Regions from separate parts of the Homo sapiens genome. Here region 1 is linked to region 2. The links come from fine-mapping of genetic effects on gene expression. A gene starts in region 2. The other region holds a variant in brackets. All regions are shown on one strand. Distances are from middle to middle.

Region 1 (8,904 bases), 74 kb after region 2:
GGGCCAAAGTGCTAAGGAGAAGAGAGGGTGGGGTGGGCACCCCACTGCCAATGGTGGAAAGCACACAGAAGCCAAGCCGCCTTTCTTTCTCCTCCTATTGATTGCCCCTTCCCTCTTTACCTCTCTCATGTCTCATTATGAAGTTCCTAGAATCGGACTGTATGTAGTCTTAGTTACAACCAATAAAAGACCTAGGCCCAACAACCCTGATCAAGTCCCATATTGGGACTAAGTATCATAAAGTACGTCTTGTGTGGCTTGGTCATTTTCTCATTTCCCTGTTTGCACAGCGTGACAGTAACATAAAATATACAATCTATATAACATCCCATCTATTGCATTCACTAGGGATTGCATAGCTAAATAAATTTAGCCTCCTGAAATAGGTTTCCATGGGCCTCTCTTCCTATAACTTGGCTTCCCTCACTGTCTTGATTTATGTGCCTTGCCTTTCCCATTCACTTTTGAGCAGGAGGAGAGCAGGAGGAAGTGGTTTATAAAATGACAAAGTCAGAGGCTAAAAATCATTAGCAAAACCCTCACTATGAACTGAGTTTGATAATGCATGCTTTCATGGAGCATTTTCATTGAATGTAGATATTCTGCAGATATCCCTACAGGGATTTGATTGGCAACTGGAACTAGGAGCAAACCTATTGTAAGTCAAATGACTCCATATGAGGCTTCATAACATTGATTGAGGACCTGCAGTGGGCAGTTTTAGTTATGGCTTGGATGCAGAGATCATCATAAAGGTGACAGCTGGATGGGTCCTTAAGGAGCTGCTTTTCTGAAAGCTCCTTGGAAGGAAAAGGGCCAAAAATATTGAGTGATTGTCAGTATGTGGGGGGAGATTATAGGTGACTTACAAACAGTCTGTTTTATATTTTTCTGTTTTGCAAAATTTATCCAATGAACATTGTTTAATTTTATCGTCATAAAAAGGCTAACTTATTGAAATGCCCTCAAAACGGTTTCTCTATATCCTGCAAACTTTTTGATGCCACAGTACTCCTTCACAATTGGACAGCTTTATACATGATCCATCAGTGATTTAAGCATGAAACCAAATGGTTCACGTAGCACCCCCTTCTCTATAATGACTTTTACTCACAAACATCTGTTTTAGAGATAGTTTAGAAAAGGGCTTCCAAAGATATTCTGCCCAACCAAATGTACTATTGAATATTGATAAGGAGACATTATGTCATTTCATAATGTGTTTCTGAATTTCTGATCTCATTGGAACCTCTTCTCCACCTGGACAGGTTGGGGAGGGGAGCCTGATCCCACTAAAGGCTGAGGAACGGGATCCTGGGCATTTGGCTTCTGGGATGGTGCCCTCCAGCTTGTAAAGAATTGGGACTGAGGGTTCTTAACTCTGAAAACTTTTTTTCTCTTTTATAAATGGCCTTGACTTTAAATCAAATCTCTTACTTTCCCAAGACCTCTGTTTTTCTACCCCAGTAAACATTAGGTGCACTTGTAAGGCATTCTGTGAACACTGAGTGGCTGCACTACACCCCATTTTCTCCCCCTGCACCCCAAGACTGTCAGGTCAGCAGGCTAAGGTCTTACCAGGGCCTAGCTCCAAGGGAACACTTAGTCAGGGGTTTTAGGCATTGAGACCAAACTCAGCAAAACCTTGGAACTGCTGAGACTGAAGAACGACTGGAGAGAAAAGCCCTCCTCTGCCGTGCGACTTTCCCATAGGCGTTGAGCAAAGGGAAGCTCTGGAGGCCGGAACGTTCACGTGACAGTGCATGTTCAGTGTGGCTGTTTGAATGGAGCAGGTCAATTCCCTTGGAACTCATCAATCTTGGGAAAAATATTTCTCCAAGAAGGGGAAATTCATACTGAATAATTTAGAGGGGCAGATGTCAGGCCTGAGCGGGCCTCCACAGCACATTTGGGAAGGACTGAAGCAACCTCCTTTTCTTGCTCCCCTCAAGGCCTCTGCCTGAACTCAGGCATTATGGTGAACTGTGAAGCCGTGCAGAGGACAGGCTGGATAATGCAGGGTTGGCAGGATACCCGCAACCTCATCCACCACATAATTAAAGGAGAAAGTACCCACACGGACAAGCCCGCCCCGAAGTGAAAGGCCTGATATGTTTTTTCTGAGCATCGTTGTATTTTTAGTTGTGGTTCAAGGACAATTTGAGTGAATGATGGTTGTTTTCATTGCTAATGTGTCTCTTTCTCCTGGCAGCCTGAGAATATCCTGTGTGTGAATCGGGATGCTAAGCAAATAAAAATTATTGATTTTGGATTGGCCAGAAGGTATGTCTATTTGGACATAGGTGTACGAATGGAGCTGGGGGACATGATGGTTGCCCTTCCTTTGCAAACATATATCTGATCTGCTCTTTGGTTTCATGATCTCATTTATAATTAATTTAACAAAAATTATGTTTGGCCTTAACTTGCTAAATTTGAGACTTGAGTGTTTAGAAGTTTCTATAATGCATGCAGTAAAAAGTATAAAAAATTAAAACCTAATACAGTGAAGTTTATTAAATTAGAAGCCATTAATTTAGCATTTGCAAGAGTTTGTCCCCTCTTTCATATTTGATCCATCTGTACAGAGAAGATTTACTTTAAAAATATTAACAACGTAAGCAAGTTTGCAAAGGGTTCTGGCACATAAAAGATTCTTCAGGGAACAAAGAGTTTACGTGGACACATTAACAATTCAGCACATTAACGACACATATAAAATGGATGTTGTAAATTATTGCAGTACTGTGTTTATTCATTTTACAGGCTTATTCACATCATCCCCATGTCAATGACTATATCAGTTTTCCTCTTGTCATCTTCTGTAATTCAGATGTTCTCATTATTCACAGCAGCTTCTCCAACAACTGGTTCAGCTTTTAAGGTTTCCTAGTATGAATTTTGACTTTTAAATTTTCTGGGGCCTCTTTACAAGTTTTTGAGCCTCTTGCTTGATTGTTTGATTTCCTTCAATGTTTGTTTGTCTGAAGTTTGCTGTATGGCTGAAGTCATTTTGTCTCATAGACTACATCATTTCAGTGTTCACGATTTTTGATCGACACGTCCATCCTTCCACTTTGTCTCTTAAATTGCAGATACAAACCCAGAGAGAAGCTGAAGGTGAACTTTGGAACCCCAGAATTTCTCGCCCCTGAAGTTGTGAACTATGATTTTGTTTCATTTCCCACTGACATGTGGAGTGTGGGGGTCATCGCCTATATGCTGTGAGTAGCTCTCCTCTGTCTCTGACCCTTCTCCAACTCCATGCATATTTTCTGAGGTTTTGCCGTTTTAAATAAAAGCCCCAATTGGGGTATTTAAAAAATAAATAACACTGTCCCATCCTCAGTTGCCTTCTAGGTTTTGTTGACTCCTGTGGGTGAAAGGAGTGAATTCTTTCCCTGCACATCATTTGGAAAAGTAAATGTGTGTCCTCTTCATTAATCACTTTAACTCCTAGGACACAACCTAAAAGCCAAAAATTAATTTAAAAAGCTCACATGGCCTGGCGCGGTGGCTCAAGCCTGTAATCCCAGCACTTTGGGAGGCTGAGGTGGGCGGATCACGAGGTCAAGAGATTGAGACCATCCTGGCCAACATGGTGAAACCCCATCTCTACTAAAAATACAAAAATCAGCCGTGCGTGGTGGCATGCACCTGTAATCCCAGCTACTCGGGAGGCTGCAGGAGAATTGCTTCCAGGAGGTGGAGGTTGCAGTGAAACGAGATCACGCCACTGCACTCCAGCCTGGTGACACAGCGAGACTCCGTCTCAAAAAAAAAAAAAAAAA[AC/C]TGATCTCCTAAATGACTCAGGCTAGCCTCACCCCTCAGAGGTGACATGCCTAGCGTTTGCCATCTGAGCATGTAGTAGCACTTTGCAAGCTGAAAAGTGCTTTAAAAAGGAAGCTGATATTCATATTCATATTCTGTTATTGCTGCAGTTGTTCAGTTAGGAGTTGGGTGGGGGCGGCAAGCATTTTCTTGATTACAATAATATGTTATAAAATTATGCTTCAGGATTAGGTTATTTTCCTTCTCTCACCTTTAAATGGCACAACCAGAAAAGCAATCTGTATGGAAAGGGGTTGAGGCTGTTTAAAAAATACTCACTCTGGACCCCGTGTCCTCCAGACTTAGCGGTTTGTCGCCTTTCCTGGGTGACAATGATGCTGAGACGCTGAACAACATCCTGGCCTGCAGGTGGGACTTAGAGGATGAAGAATTTCAGGACATCTCGGAGGAGGCCAAGGAGTTCATCTCTAAGCTTCTGATTAAGGAGAAGAGGTAACGCAAGTTCGTCCTGTGCTCCGGGCGCAGTAGGGATGATAAGGAAGCAGGGCCTACCACCAGGGCTGTTCGAATTTATTCTCTTACTAACATCTGTGATGCTTGCGCAAAGTCATGGATAGAATGAGGTTTGAGCCTCTTGACCCAGTCTACTGAGATCTGGGACTGCTTTGGTCATGAAGCTACACAAACCTTTCTCTTCCTGCCATTTATCATATGGCCATACCAGCCATGGACTCCTGCTGGGCCTTAGTTGACTCACTGTCAAAATGGAAGGCTTGGGAGAAGTATTTCTAGGATTCCTTTCACCTCTACTAAGCTGTATATGGTTCCGTGTAGCTGAATCTTTAACTACCATTTCATTTGGGAAACTACTGTGGGCCAGATCATGCCAAGTGCTTTGTAGACATTATCTCTTTTAACTACCACCCCTGACCCCAACTCCATGAGGCAGAAATCGGGTAGAAGATCCCACGTGGTTTGCCCATCATCATACCGCCAGTAATTGGCAGAACAGAGGCTCAAACAGATAGTTCTCCTTCCCCAACGGCCGCACACTTGGCTGTTATTTATTACATGGCCCTCTATTTTCTGTTATGCTAAAACCACATTAATTCAAAATTCAGTGAATGAAAAAGAGTGACATTGAAATATAGGGATTTGCATTTTAGAATCATAGAAGGGGAAGGGCATTGTGATTAACCCATCAAACACGCTGTTTCAGATGGCTTTATACCTGAGCCGTATAATGATTGAAGTAGTTAAGGTTTTCAGGGTCAATAGCACTTGCCTTATCGTTTTATTATCTTTATGGCTTTAAAGTCACTAATACACATGGCTGTGGATCAACAGGTAGAAGGGTGTCACAGGGAGTGGGGAAACAGTGTGGGCAGTGGGTCTGGCACACAGCTTGGCAGGAGATGCTTTCATTCAAGTGTTGATCACCTACTGTGTGCCAGGAAATGTGTCATGTGCTAAGAATAGAGGCACAAATCCAGTCCCTGCCTATAGTAACTCACCATCTAATAAAAGGGATAGATATTTTTTAAAAAGATGTAATAAAATGTGGTTAACACAAAGATAAGGCCATCCTTAGAGGATGAAGAGAACCTAGCCAGGCTAGGGGTATCAGTCCGACAGGAGGGACAATTCACAAATAATGGATTAATAATAATAATAACCTTGGCTAGTATTGTGCCTTGATGGAAAGGCACAATAACAGCCAAGGTTATTATTATGAGCACATTACTCTACCCAAGGCAGTGAACAGATGGAAACTGTCAACCCTTTCAAATCTTTGGAGGACGAGAAGTCCACATTTACTGTGAACCTGTTTTACATGTGTACTTTCATGTGTTATCTTATTTGGCTTCTGGATAATCCTGTGGTCTGTGGAGACCATCATTTTACACATGGGGAAACTGAGGCTGAGAGCAGTGCTGCAGTCACACGGCTATCTCAGAGCAGATGCAGAGGTGGGCCCAGTGGGCTCCAGTGCCGCTCACTCCTTCAGTCTGAGGGCTTCATGAATGCCCAAGGAGCATCAGATGCCCATTTGGGCCGATGGCAACTGGCTTAGAATTCCAGTCAATGCTTGGATGAAACTAAAGCCAAAAGCCAAACACCACTATCATAGAATAAATTTCTGGGGTACAGAAATAAACTTGAAATGTTATTAAGTTTAATTATTAGTACAATGTTATTGTTAACTTTTTAATAGCCAGATTTAAGAAGTTCGACACTAGAGTACAGAATCATCATTTTTCACCTTGGTCAGCCATTGGAATGCTCTGGAGATCCAGTACTGAAAATTTATGACACTAAGCAGAACCACACTTCCAACTGAGGTTGATGGAGGTCACGAGGTTTTTAAAAATTACCTCTGCCTGTTTTTGGCACTATAATGGTGATGTTGTCACCAAGTTCATTGATGTAATAAAGACTTATCTCCTCTTCAAATCTTATACTTAAATATTTTGGTATCTGATGAAGCGATTGCATTGAAGCAATCCTACAAACTGAAGCTTCATTACTGCTTGAAACTGCCTCTTTGACTTCAGATTGTTACATTCACTTACAGGTTTTTTGTTTGTTTGTTTGTTTTTTCATTTTTTTTTTTTTTTTTGAGACAGAATCTCACACTGTCACCTAGGCTGGTGTGCAATGGCACGATCTTGGCTCAATGCAACCTCCACCTCCTGGGTTCACGTGATTCTCCTTCCTCAGCCTCCTGAGTAGCTGGGATTACAGGTGTGCCCCACCACACCCAGCTAATTTTTTGTATTTTTAGTAGAGACGGGGTTTCACTATTTTGGCCAGACTGGTCTTGAACTCCTGATTTCGTGATCCACCCGCCTCGGCCTCCCAAAGTGCTGGGATTACAGGCATGAGCCATTGCACCTGGCCTACAGTTTTTATTTTGAAAGGTTATTTGTTTTAATGTGATAAATGTTAGCACATCAAACAAATGTATAGAACTTAGAATTTAAATATGGTAAATCTATATTATTCTTCCTCATATTATTTCCCAAAATCTTATAAACCTTTGCTGGCTCCAAAAGGATATTGTTTCTTCATAAAAGTATCTAATGGTCCCTCTCTTAATAATTACATCGACTCTATTTCCCTACCTATTTAACTCAAAACTTCTCAATTCAAAAGTTAGTAATATTTATTATTCAAAAGTTTTAATACACAAATTGCTTTGGCAATCATCAAGAATCATTGTAGCATTTTGTTCTTACAATAATAAATATATATTTATTTTTCAACTGACTGATAGGAATCCACTTTACTAAGCTCAGATGTTATACTACAGAAATGGTTACTTATATTTGAAAGTAAATGTTCAGTTATTAACAAGAATTTTTATTATTTGCCTTGTTTGTCTTTACTAATGTTATCCTGATTGGATTCGATAGTCACCTATGCCATCATTGATAGCACACAATTCAAGAGAAGGCAGAATTGACCATGAGTTGACATTCGGCCATCTGGTCTCCCGAAGGCAGAAGCTGGAGTTGAGATTGAACAGCAGATACAGGCCTTCTTCGGTGTGTTTCTACTAATCACCTTCTGAATTTCCTTCTAGTTGGCGAATAAGTGCAAGCGAAGCTCTCAAGCACCCCTGGTTGTCAGACCACAAGCTCCACTCCAGACTCAATGCCCAGGTGACCACGGCTTCTTGCTCTTCCTCTTTTTCTCCTGTCTGCCTGTCTTTTGAAGATCAGATGCTGGAGTCATCTTAACCTTAAATAAGATTCTTTCTCATTCTTTTTCTCACAGACTGCAAATCTTGTGCAGTATTAAATTACTTAAAATGCTTTTTTAAAAAAAATTTTTTTTGAGGCAAAATTTCACTCTCGTTGCCCAAACTAGAGTGCAATGGCACGATCTCAGCTCACTGCAACGTCCACCTCCCTGGTTCAAGCGATTCTCCTGCCTCAGTCTCACAGGTAGCTGGGATTACAGGCGTGTGCCACCATGCCTGGCTAATTTTGTAGTTTTAGTGGAAACAGAGTTTCACCATGTTGGTCAGGCTGGTCTCAAACCCCTGACCTCGTGATCCACCCACCTTGGCCTCCCATAGTGCTGGGATTACAGGCCTGAGCCACTGCACCCGGCCTTAAAATGCTTTTTTGAGCAGTTTACATTTTAAAAATAATGTATTTGTTGTTTAACAGAGTATTTTCAGCATAACTGTTTATTATTAAATTATTGTATCCATTATAAAATGAATTACTTCATTGTCTTATGTGCACATACATACACACATATAACCTATAAACATATAAAGTTCTGGAGAATATATAGTAATGTTCATTCAGGAGAAATATGCCTCCTTAAAACAGAATTCAGAATTCTAAATTCTGTGCTCACCTGGCTTGATCTGCTCTGGGCACCAAATCTTAACTCTAATACTCAGCTTAGTCCGGGTATCTATACAAGTCTATGTGTGGGAGACTCTTAGACTACAGACTGAGTATTGTGAATAACCTAGCCCACTCTCTGTAATAACTTCTTACAATGAAATCTTCACCTACTCTCATTGCCTTAATTACCAGATGTTTATATTCCGACTTCCTCATCTGTCTCTTTGGCACAGATATCTTTCCTAAGCTGCAGATCCATATGTCCATCTGTGTACTAGATGTTTCCACCAGGATCTTCCCATCCCTAAACTAATCTCATCTCCCTGCCCCTTGCCTCACCATCAGTGATCCTCTTAGGGAAGGATGCCCATGGAGCGGCCCCAGCCAGCCCCCGTACATCTTCTTTGCTTCCTTCCTCTCCCTCGAGCCCCCATCTCATGTTTAATTTACCTCCATGTTGTGTACATGATATCCCCTAATTACCTCTGGAAGCTGTCTGTTTCTCTCCATTCCCATGGTGACCGTGGCCTGGGACATGCCTCCCCTGAGTGACTGCAGCCTCCTAACTGGCTTCTCTGCCTCCTTCATGTTGTCTCCATCCAAATAATTGTGGATTATATAATTAACACAGAAACAGATGTGTAATGCCCAAGTAACTTTACTGAACATCTAGGATGTTCAACTGGCAAGATGCATATACAGGCAAGACGCCATGCCAACCTTTGGGCCCACCAGGACCTGTCTG
Region 2 (8,904 bases):
TTCTCAAGAATAGATACTGAGAAACGTTGGGTGATGCATTGTTGGGGAACATGATACCTATAAATTCCCACAAGTTATTTATCAATCACAAAAATAAAAGGGTTAGTTTTACATTTGAGAAGTCTGGTGGACACAACCTTAATCAGATCACCAAATTTAATATCACGAATAATGGCACAAACCGACATCATGTGCCACCTTTTGTGATGTTCTGAAAAAGATACAGTGTCACTTCTGTAGTTTTCATGCTCAGGTATAACCTGGTTCCAAGCATGAAGACACAATCAGGAAATTAGAATTGAGAGACATTTTATGAAACAATTTGTCCAAAGACTTCAAAAATATCAATGTCATGAAGGATTACAAAAAAGAGAGAGAGACTAGGAAGCCTCATCTCCACAAAAAATACAAAACTTAGCCTGGTGTGGTGGTGCCTGCCAATAGTCCCAGCTACTTGGAGGGCTGAGGCAGGAGGATCACTTGAGCCAAGGTCAAGGCTGCAGTGAGCTGTGTTCACGCCACTGCACTCCAGCACAAGCAACAGAGTGAGACCTTGTCTCAAAAAGTAAAATAAAATAAAATAAACGGAATGACCATTTCCTAAATAGATAAAAGGAGACTAAGAAGACATGGTGATTAAATGCGCTATGTAATTTTTGAGTAGATTCTGTTATGTGAGAAAGTGTCTTTTTTCTCAAGAAACATACACCAATTCATATAGGGGTAAAGTTTCATGAGATATGCATCTTACTCGCAAAAGAGAGAGAGAGGGCAAACATGGAAAATGCTAACATTTGGTGAATATGGGTGAAGGATGTATAGGTATTCATTGTACTATGCTTGCAAATATCCCTTAGAAAGTTTAAGGGATATAATTAAAGGAACAATTTGTGTAGCCACTGTAGAGGTAATAAACTGAAACTTTATGTAATATTTCTGAAAAATATTAATTTTTAAATGATCCAATCCATATTTTTATCTAATTTTTAAAACCTGTTTTATTTTCATTTTTGTATTTCGTAATACTTAGCTAATTGCTGTCACTTAGAAGTTTTAGTGGTCTAATATCAAAATTTCCTGTAAAGAAATCTGGATATTCCATAACATCATTATCTTTCTTGCTCAAAGTATCCTATCTCCAAGCAGAAAATAAAAGATAGAAATTACTTTTAAAATTACTATTAATTTTTCTATTAATTACAAAATCTTATATTGCATGATATTCATGCCAGGAGAAGAAAAGCGTGAGACTCTTAACTGTCTCCTGCTCACCATTCCTTTTCTTTGGCCCTAGGTGACCTGGCAAGTGTGGAATATAATTTATGTTTCCCTGGATCCCAGCCTTGGTCACTGGGGACAGATGACCACAAAGTGTTCAGTTTTTTCCTCTCCTTTTAACAAGCTACTTTTTGTTAATCATATTATTGGGTTTTCTTTTTCTTAATGACTCTATTGAAGTATAATTTACATATTATAAAATTCACCCATCTCAAGTGCACAATTCTGCATTGTTTTAAGAAACTGAATGAGTTGTACAGTCATCACTACCACACATCATCGGGTAAGATTCTGTTTACAATTAACCCCCATTCCTGCACCCAGCCCCCGGCAACCACCAGTCTGCTTTCTACGTCTATAGATTTGTCTTTTCTGAGCATTTTATACAAATGGAATCATACAATCTGTGCTCTATGTTTCTGGCTTTTTTTTTTCAATTAGCACAGTGTTTTCGCTCATCCATATTGTAGTAGATACCAGTATTTCATTCCTTTTAATTACGTAGTATTCCATTTGTATGTGTATACCACATTATCTTTTCCCAGTCTCCAAATCATCCGATGGACATTTTGGTTGTTTTCAGTTTTTGGCTATTGTGAATAATGCTGCTGTGAACATTCATGTGCCATGGTTTCTGTGTTCATATGTTTTCATTTCTCTTGGGTAGATACCTAGGAGAAGAATTTCTAGGTCATATGGGAAATAACTTTTTAAGAAATTGCCAACCTCTTTTATAAGACACCTGTATCATTTTATATTCCCATCAACATATTTGGTGAGGGTTCCAGTTTTTCCACATCCTTGTCAACACTTGCTTTTCTCTGTCTTTTTTTTTTTTTTTTTGGTAGAGATGGGGTCTTGCTATGTTGCCCAGGCTGGTCTCAAACTCCTGGACTGAAGTGATCCTCCTGTCTTGGCCTCCCAAAGTGCTAGGATTACAGGTGTGAGCCACCACACCCAACCTATCTTTTATTTTTTTCATTATTATTACAGCTCTCCTAGTGGGTGTGAAATGATGTTTCCTTGTGGTTTTAATTTGCATCTCCCTGATGACTGATTTTGAGCATTTTTTTTCATGTGCTTATTAACCATTTTTATATCTTCTTTGGTGAGGTCTGTTTTAATCTTTTGTCCATTTAAAAAACTGGAATGTTTTGTCATATATTATTAAGTTGTATATGCTAGATGCAGTCCTTTGTCAAATATGTGACTTCACAGTATTTTCTATACATCTGTAGCTGGTCTTTTCATTTTCATAATAGTGTCTTTTCATTTTCCTAATAGTGTTTTTTCAAAGGCAAACGTTTTGAATTTTGAAGAAGTGCAATTTATCAATCTTCGTTTTTATGGGTCGTATTCAGTGGTGATTTTTGAAAGTAAGGAAGTTCTATTGTAATGTGGGTAACAGGGATGCAGTAGCTTTTTATTTGCATTTGGGTATTTGTACTGTTGCTCCGCTTTTGTGTGTAAACATTCAAGAGGTCTTGTTCTGGAAACATTCAGAACGCTGTGTAGAAACAAAAACTCTTAGTGTAATCCAGCCGGGTTTCAATGCCAACCCGTAGACAAGAGCTGTCGACGATGTTTCTTCATGTGGCTCCTTTGACAACACAGTCTCTTACTCAGCTAATGGAAATGTCCCTTGAAAAAAATCAAGGGATTCTTTTCCATGGCTCTGTAGGGTGCTGTTTTCCTGATGTTGGTATTTTTTAGAGAAGTATAACTCCAAAATATGGAAATACTGGAAAAGTGTTCCTGGGCCTGCTCATATTCCTCACTAATGAATTTTTCCGGGTATAAGAGCATCTTTAAGCATGCAGAACATTTTATGGGTATGGACTTAGGATCCTGAGGCTAGGCTGATAGACCAGAATGAGTATGCATGTATAACCTGTTTTTTTGTGGTCAAGGGTTGTGCCAGCAGTGTGCTTGTCCTGTATGCCATCGGAAGCTGGGAACAGTGTGATGCAGCAGAACCAGACAATCAGTCACTTTTAGCATGGATTATTTTAATTGACTTGCTTTTTAGGGCAAGTAGACACAATTAAAGATCATTCTATCTAGTCATTAATCAAATATGTATTGAATGTATATTGTGCATGGAAATGTCTATATGTGGATGCCTTCCAAATTCTTATCTCCAGCCTACACCCCTCCCCGGAACTCCAGTTTCTATCTCCACAGCCTATTCAACTTGAACGTTTAATGGACTTGCCAAAGACTTCATGCCTGACCTTTCCCTCCAGAGTTGCCCTTCCCACAGCCGTCTCCATCTCAGTTAATGTTCACTCTGTCTTTCAAGTGCTCAGAAGAAAATATGCAAAGGTGTCTACCATCTTTCTTTCATACCCCATACCCAATCTATCATAAATCCTACTGATTCTAAATGTACTGTGGAATCCTGCATGGGATTCTGGAACAGAAAAGGGGCATTTGGGGAAAAAAAAAACCCAGCAACAATAAAGTATTGAGTTTAGTTAATAATAACGTTCACCATGGTTCATTAATTGTGACAAGTATACCATACCAACGTAAGATGTTAAAAACAGAGGATTCGGGGTGCAGGGCAAGGGGAACTCTGAACTACCTTTGCACCTTTTCTGTAGATGTAAAACTACTCTAAAAGGAAAAGTTTATTACAAAAAAATAAGCTAAGGAGCAGATTCTCCTGGCCTCTGGCTCACTCAAGCCTGTGGTTGGTTTGCTGGAGCCAACGAGATAGGAAGTCTGCTTTTGCGTGGTGGTGGTCCGGGTGGAGGATGTGGTTGGATCAGCAGCAGCCCACACACATCTTGCCTCTGGCAGGGCATTTGTTGCCTTATCAGTACTTCTACACAATTTAATTATACTAACAAAATTGGTAACCTCAAACCAGCTTAGTCTTTGTATAATACTTTTGTCAGATAATTTATCTCCACAAATTTATAGTTCCACTTCATTACTTTTGCTGAAGAACAAAGCTCTCCAATCTGAAAAATAACAAGCGTTTTGTGTTTTAAAAAAGATTTTGCTGTAATTCATTAATACTACATAAAATGGAAAAATATGTATTTTTATTTCACATGGAATGCATCGATCTGAATTAAAAATAAGGTTTTTTTTTTAAAAGAAGCAGAAGAGCAGCAGAGGCTGGTGTTAGAATGGGGCATAGAGGGGCTAACACAGGCTCCAAATAAGAGGTGACAATTGGCCAGGCCCTGAAAAATTGCAGGGTTTTCAAGACTGCAAAGTCCAGCCTCTGGGCAATCAAAGTTTTATGCCACTTCAGTGAATCTAGGGATGCACTACTGTGAGAGTCGGGCAGGTGGGTTGAAATTCCCCTTTCTTGGTCTGTGCAGAAAACTACGGATGAAGTCCTAGTGTTGCTTAAGGAGAATTTATGAAAAATTTATTCCTGTTTCCTGGATGCCTGTGCCTTTGACCTTTCCCTAGAGCTAGAAATGGTTGGAGACTTTGCAAACATCTTTAAGAACTGAGAAAAATAAAACAAACTTGCTAACTGCTTTCAGAAGATCTTCTATATTGCAGTTGGATATGCTCAAAGCGTAAGATGGGCAAACAGAGGTGGCTGTGGGGTTGCCACACCTGGCATTTTCCCTACTGGGGGAAATTTAATGAGCACTTAAATAATCCTGAGTCTGAAAGGGGCAGAAGGTCCAGGCAGATGATTGCCGAGGACAAATCTAGCTTTGTAAATCCGAGAGTATTGACACAATGATACGAGGGAAAGGTGAAGGTGATATTTCATCCAGTGTTCCCGGTTCATCCTCTCCTTACCTGACCTCTGAAATGGAGCCATTGGCCTTGAAAAGCCTGGTGTCTAAAATTAATATTCTTCCCCATCTGACTAAGAAGGCAACAGCTGAGCAACGTGAGATCAAGAGCCATATTAATTTAAACAGGGGCTGAAAGTGGCATTTGAGAGAGAAGATACTTCCTCTCGTAGTGGACACTTGTCTTTTCAGAAGATTTATACGACTGAGAGTCAAAACTTTTACCAGAGACTTTCATAGTCAGTTTGAATTCTGCAAAATTTCTCTTTATCTTCTGGAATGTATGCTCTAGACTTGGAGTGGCTCAAGCTCTTCGATGTGATCCTATCAATGGTAATTATCTTTGTTTATTGTTATAACCTCTCAAATCTCCTCCCCTTTTTTCTAAGTTACCTTCAATAACAAATTGTACCAAACTTCAGGTAGAGCTTAATGTTTAATATTTCTTTGCAAAATTATTGTATCTTAATCCTAAGCTTTTGTTTTAATACATTAATTTTGTGTGGCTTCCTGATCCAACTTGAGTTTCATCTGCAATTAACCATAGTATTTTAGTCGTAGTTTGCCTTAGAAATAGCCATGCATTTGTTTCCTTATTTTAATAATTTTTTCAGGGCAATTTGAAAGAATGCTAAGAATGATCTGTAATATATCTGTAGAGCTCTGGTTGATAGTATTAATATTTGCATTTTTATTTGTTTGAATGTAAGCTCTTTATGTGGATAAGTATAATTTGTTAGAGCAGTGAATTTTAAACACTTTGGAACTCAAGAGTATCATTTTACTATAGGAACTGACAAAACAAAATATTAAGTTTTCTGATGAGAATCACAATACGGTTTTTAAGCGGAGAAAATGCTCGAAGAGGCGCTTTTCGGAAAATCTCCACCAGGGGGCCTCAGTTGTCAGCCATGCGGAACTAGCACAAATTCAAATGTCTCTCCCTCTCCCTGCCTCTCTATGCAATCAAGTGATGTGTACATATAGACATGCGTATATGTCTCTAGTATCAAAGCGAATTATGTATGCTGCATTACTTCATTTGCGAGGAAAGTATTTTAAGGAGAGTGAAAAGACTCTGAACTTCTCGGTACATAGCTGTTAATGCAGATGCAAGGAAAGGTATCTGGGAGTGCTGTCCACGTGAGAAGACTGTAAGGAAATAAATTTCTTTTCACAAATAAACACCACACATTTTAAGGCATAGGTAGAGAAGAGTTCTGGAAAAGGACTCATTCGGGAGCGATCCCTCTGCAGAGGGAGGCCAGGGGAAGCAGAGAGACCCCTTCTGTGATAAGCCCTTCCCACGGGGCTGCAAAACCTGCGGTTCCAATTAAACCCAAAGATACTTTATAATTTACATCCAAGCTGGCCACTTGATCTACGGCTTGTTTTGTGCAATAAGGAGCATATTTCATCACCAGTGAATCTTGACATTGCTTCTTACTGTTTGCTTTTGTAGTTTTAAAGTGAAAAAATTTTTTTTCCTTTTAAAGTTCCAATGTTGGAAACTCAATATGAATGTTAGTATTTCTTTTCCTGATTTTGGATCCTCTCTCCAGTTTAAACAGAAGGGACTTCCAAATTCTCACTGGTCATTTTCTCAAGAAGTCAAATGCATGAATACGTGATGAGAACTTTTTGTGTTTCCTTTCTTTGCAGTCAAGAGAAAGAAGCACTGAAGAGTCATAATTGTGTCCTGATTTATAAATCGGAGACAGAGGGAGACGAAAACCACACTCCAGAAAGTAGCTTAATCGGACTCACTACTAAGATGTTAAAAGTGAAGAGGCTGGAAGAATTCAACACGTGTTATAACAGCAACCAGCTGGAGAAAATGGCCTTTTTTCAGTGCAGGGAAGAGGTGGAGAAAGTGAAGTGTTTTCTGGAAAAAAATTCTGGGGACCAGGATTCAAGATCTGGACATAATGAGGTAATCATGTTCTAATTTAGTCTCCTAAAAAGTATTCATTCTATCTTATCTTTTCTAATGTCATGGAGCCGCTTGTGAGTACAATTAAGGAAAGTTTATGAATAGGCATCATTCCACTTTGCTTCAGTGAGAATTGTGTGTGTCGACTATACAATTGTGTTTGGTAAATAATTAGGAGGCCTTTGAAACTGCATTTCTGCCAGCAGTCGACTTCACTTTTAGTTAGTGGCTTAGGAGTTATACAGCCAGCTTGCAGAAATGAAGAAGAATCCTTTAGCATGATGGATTTGGGCTTGAAATTCAGAAAAGGGCTCTGAGAGGCACACTGTTCTGCAGAAAGAAGTTTCTCCTTTTTCCTTCAGATCTTGAGTTCCTCACGCGGTAGACAGCAGAGCTGTTGATAGTGAAGTCCAGAGAAGGGACAAGAAAGACTTGCTGATGGCACGACGGTGGGGCTTGTACCCTCCTCTGTGCAGAACGAGAGTTCTGAGCCCCATTCCAGCTGCTCGTTCTTGGGAAAAATATTAATTTAACCAAGGGCTTGCCACATCTGAATTAGTGAGATAATAGCAATTGTGAAAATTAAGTGTGATCACGTCTGTAAAGCACTCCGCCTAGTATCTGTCACTAGAGTCAGCATTTAATATGTGTTAGCGGCAGCAGCAATTACCTCCCCTGCCTTGGCCCAGTCAGTTCCTGCCCATCATCCGTTGGCTCCTTGCCCGGTGGGAGCATCAAGCATTTTGCCCGTGCCTTCATTCCAGCACATGTGGTGGTTTTGAACATGTTGATCACCTTTCTCTAGACAAGGCTCCTTAAGGTTGGGAAACCTCGTGTTATTTGTTCATGTTTCCTCAGTTGCTTTCCTAGTAACGGAAACAAATAGGCACCAAAAGTGTTTTTGGAATGCACAGATCTATTTAAGTGAATTCTGGTTGAGGGCTGGGAACCATTATTTTTGATAATCAGAGCAAGTGATTCTTATCAGGCAGGTTTGGAAAACATCCTTCTTTGCCCAGCTACTGTTCTAAAAAACACTATTCAGGTAGGAAGGGCGTTTCTAACAATGCAATAGACAATGAAATAGAGAGATTGTATATAAAAGGTCTAGGAGGCTTTTTATTGTAAGTGAATAAGAAATGACAAAATGTGCTGGAGAGAATAAATGAATCAGATTGAAACATTTTTTTGAGACCTCTGCTTTCCCCATGAGTTCAATATAGACCAAGGAGAAATATCTACAGGCAAAATTAAGTGAGACATGACTTTCTCATTAGGGTTTTCAGTGGTACAAACAGGATAATTTTTTCTGTTTATTAATTTCGGTAGGACAGAGAAGACAAAATATTCTTCTTGGAGAACTTTGAAATCATCAACTAACTGTAATAGTTTATATGAATTTCATTATCTTTCAAGTACTGTTTTTCTCCAAAATCTATGATACAATTTTTATAAATGGGCAACACTCTAAAGAGTGAGATAAGCAGGACACATGGCTCATACCTGTAATCCCAGCACTTTGGGAGGCTGGGGCAAGAGAATCACTGGAGGCCAGGAGTTTGAGACCAGCCCAGGTGACATGGTGAGATGTCTATTTCTACAAAAATAAAAAAATACAAATAAAATAGCGGGCATGGTGGCACACATCTGTAGTCCCAGCTACTTGGGAGGCTGAGGCAGGAGGATTGCTTGAGCCCGGGAGTTCAAGGATGCAGTGAGCTATGATCACACCACTGCACTCCAGCGTGGGCAACAGAGGAAGACCCTGTTTCTGAAGATAAAAAAAAAGAGTGCGATAGTGCTAAGTTGGAACATAAATATATGTAGGGATGTTACTTTTGTGCAGCCAACTACATCCAGAAGTTGATGATTTGGAAGTTAAATATTTTTAGGGTGTTTTTGAGGGAAAAATTGAGACTG

Direction of the effects. Alleles are on the strand shown, and positions count from the first base shown. SD is a standard deviation of normalised expression in the study named.
As copies of AC replace C in region 1, the expression in B cells of the gene that starts at base 5,198 in region 2 goes down (large effect, 1.2 SD a copy in Schmiedel 2018).

Evidence for each region. PIP is the estimated chance that this variant, and not a neighbour inherited with it, causes the effect.
Region 1: its variant is fine-mapped to the expression of MYLK4 in B cells (Schmiedel 2018, PIP 0.95). The same link has a PIP of 0.9 or more in Th1/17 cells and naive CD4 T cells.

What each region holds. Positions count from the first base shown.
Region 1 is chr6:2,673,600-2,682,503 of GRCh38, reverse strand. MYLK4 (myosin light chain kinase family member 4) reads left to right here. Exons shown (of 13, transcript NM_001012418.5): 8 at 2,213-2,283; 9 at 3,096-3,224; 10 at 4,132-4,284; 11 at 7,379-7,457. Among named protein-coding and RNA genes, the nearest start is that of LINC01600, 43 kb to the right of the region's middle. The variant AC/C (reference allele first, on the strand shown) is at 3,792.
Region 2 is chr6:2,747,216-2,756,119 of GRCh38, reverse strand. It overlaps MYLK4 (myosin light chain kinase family member 4), which reads left to right and starts at 5,198. Exons shown (of 13, transcript NM_001012418.5): 1 at 5,198-5,384; 2 at 6,714-6,984. The coding sequence starts at 6,826. RefSeq lists a silencer at 3,331-3,625.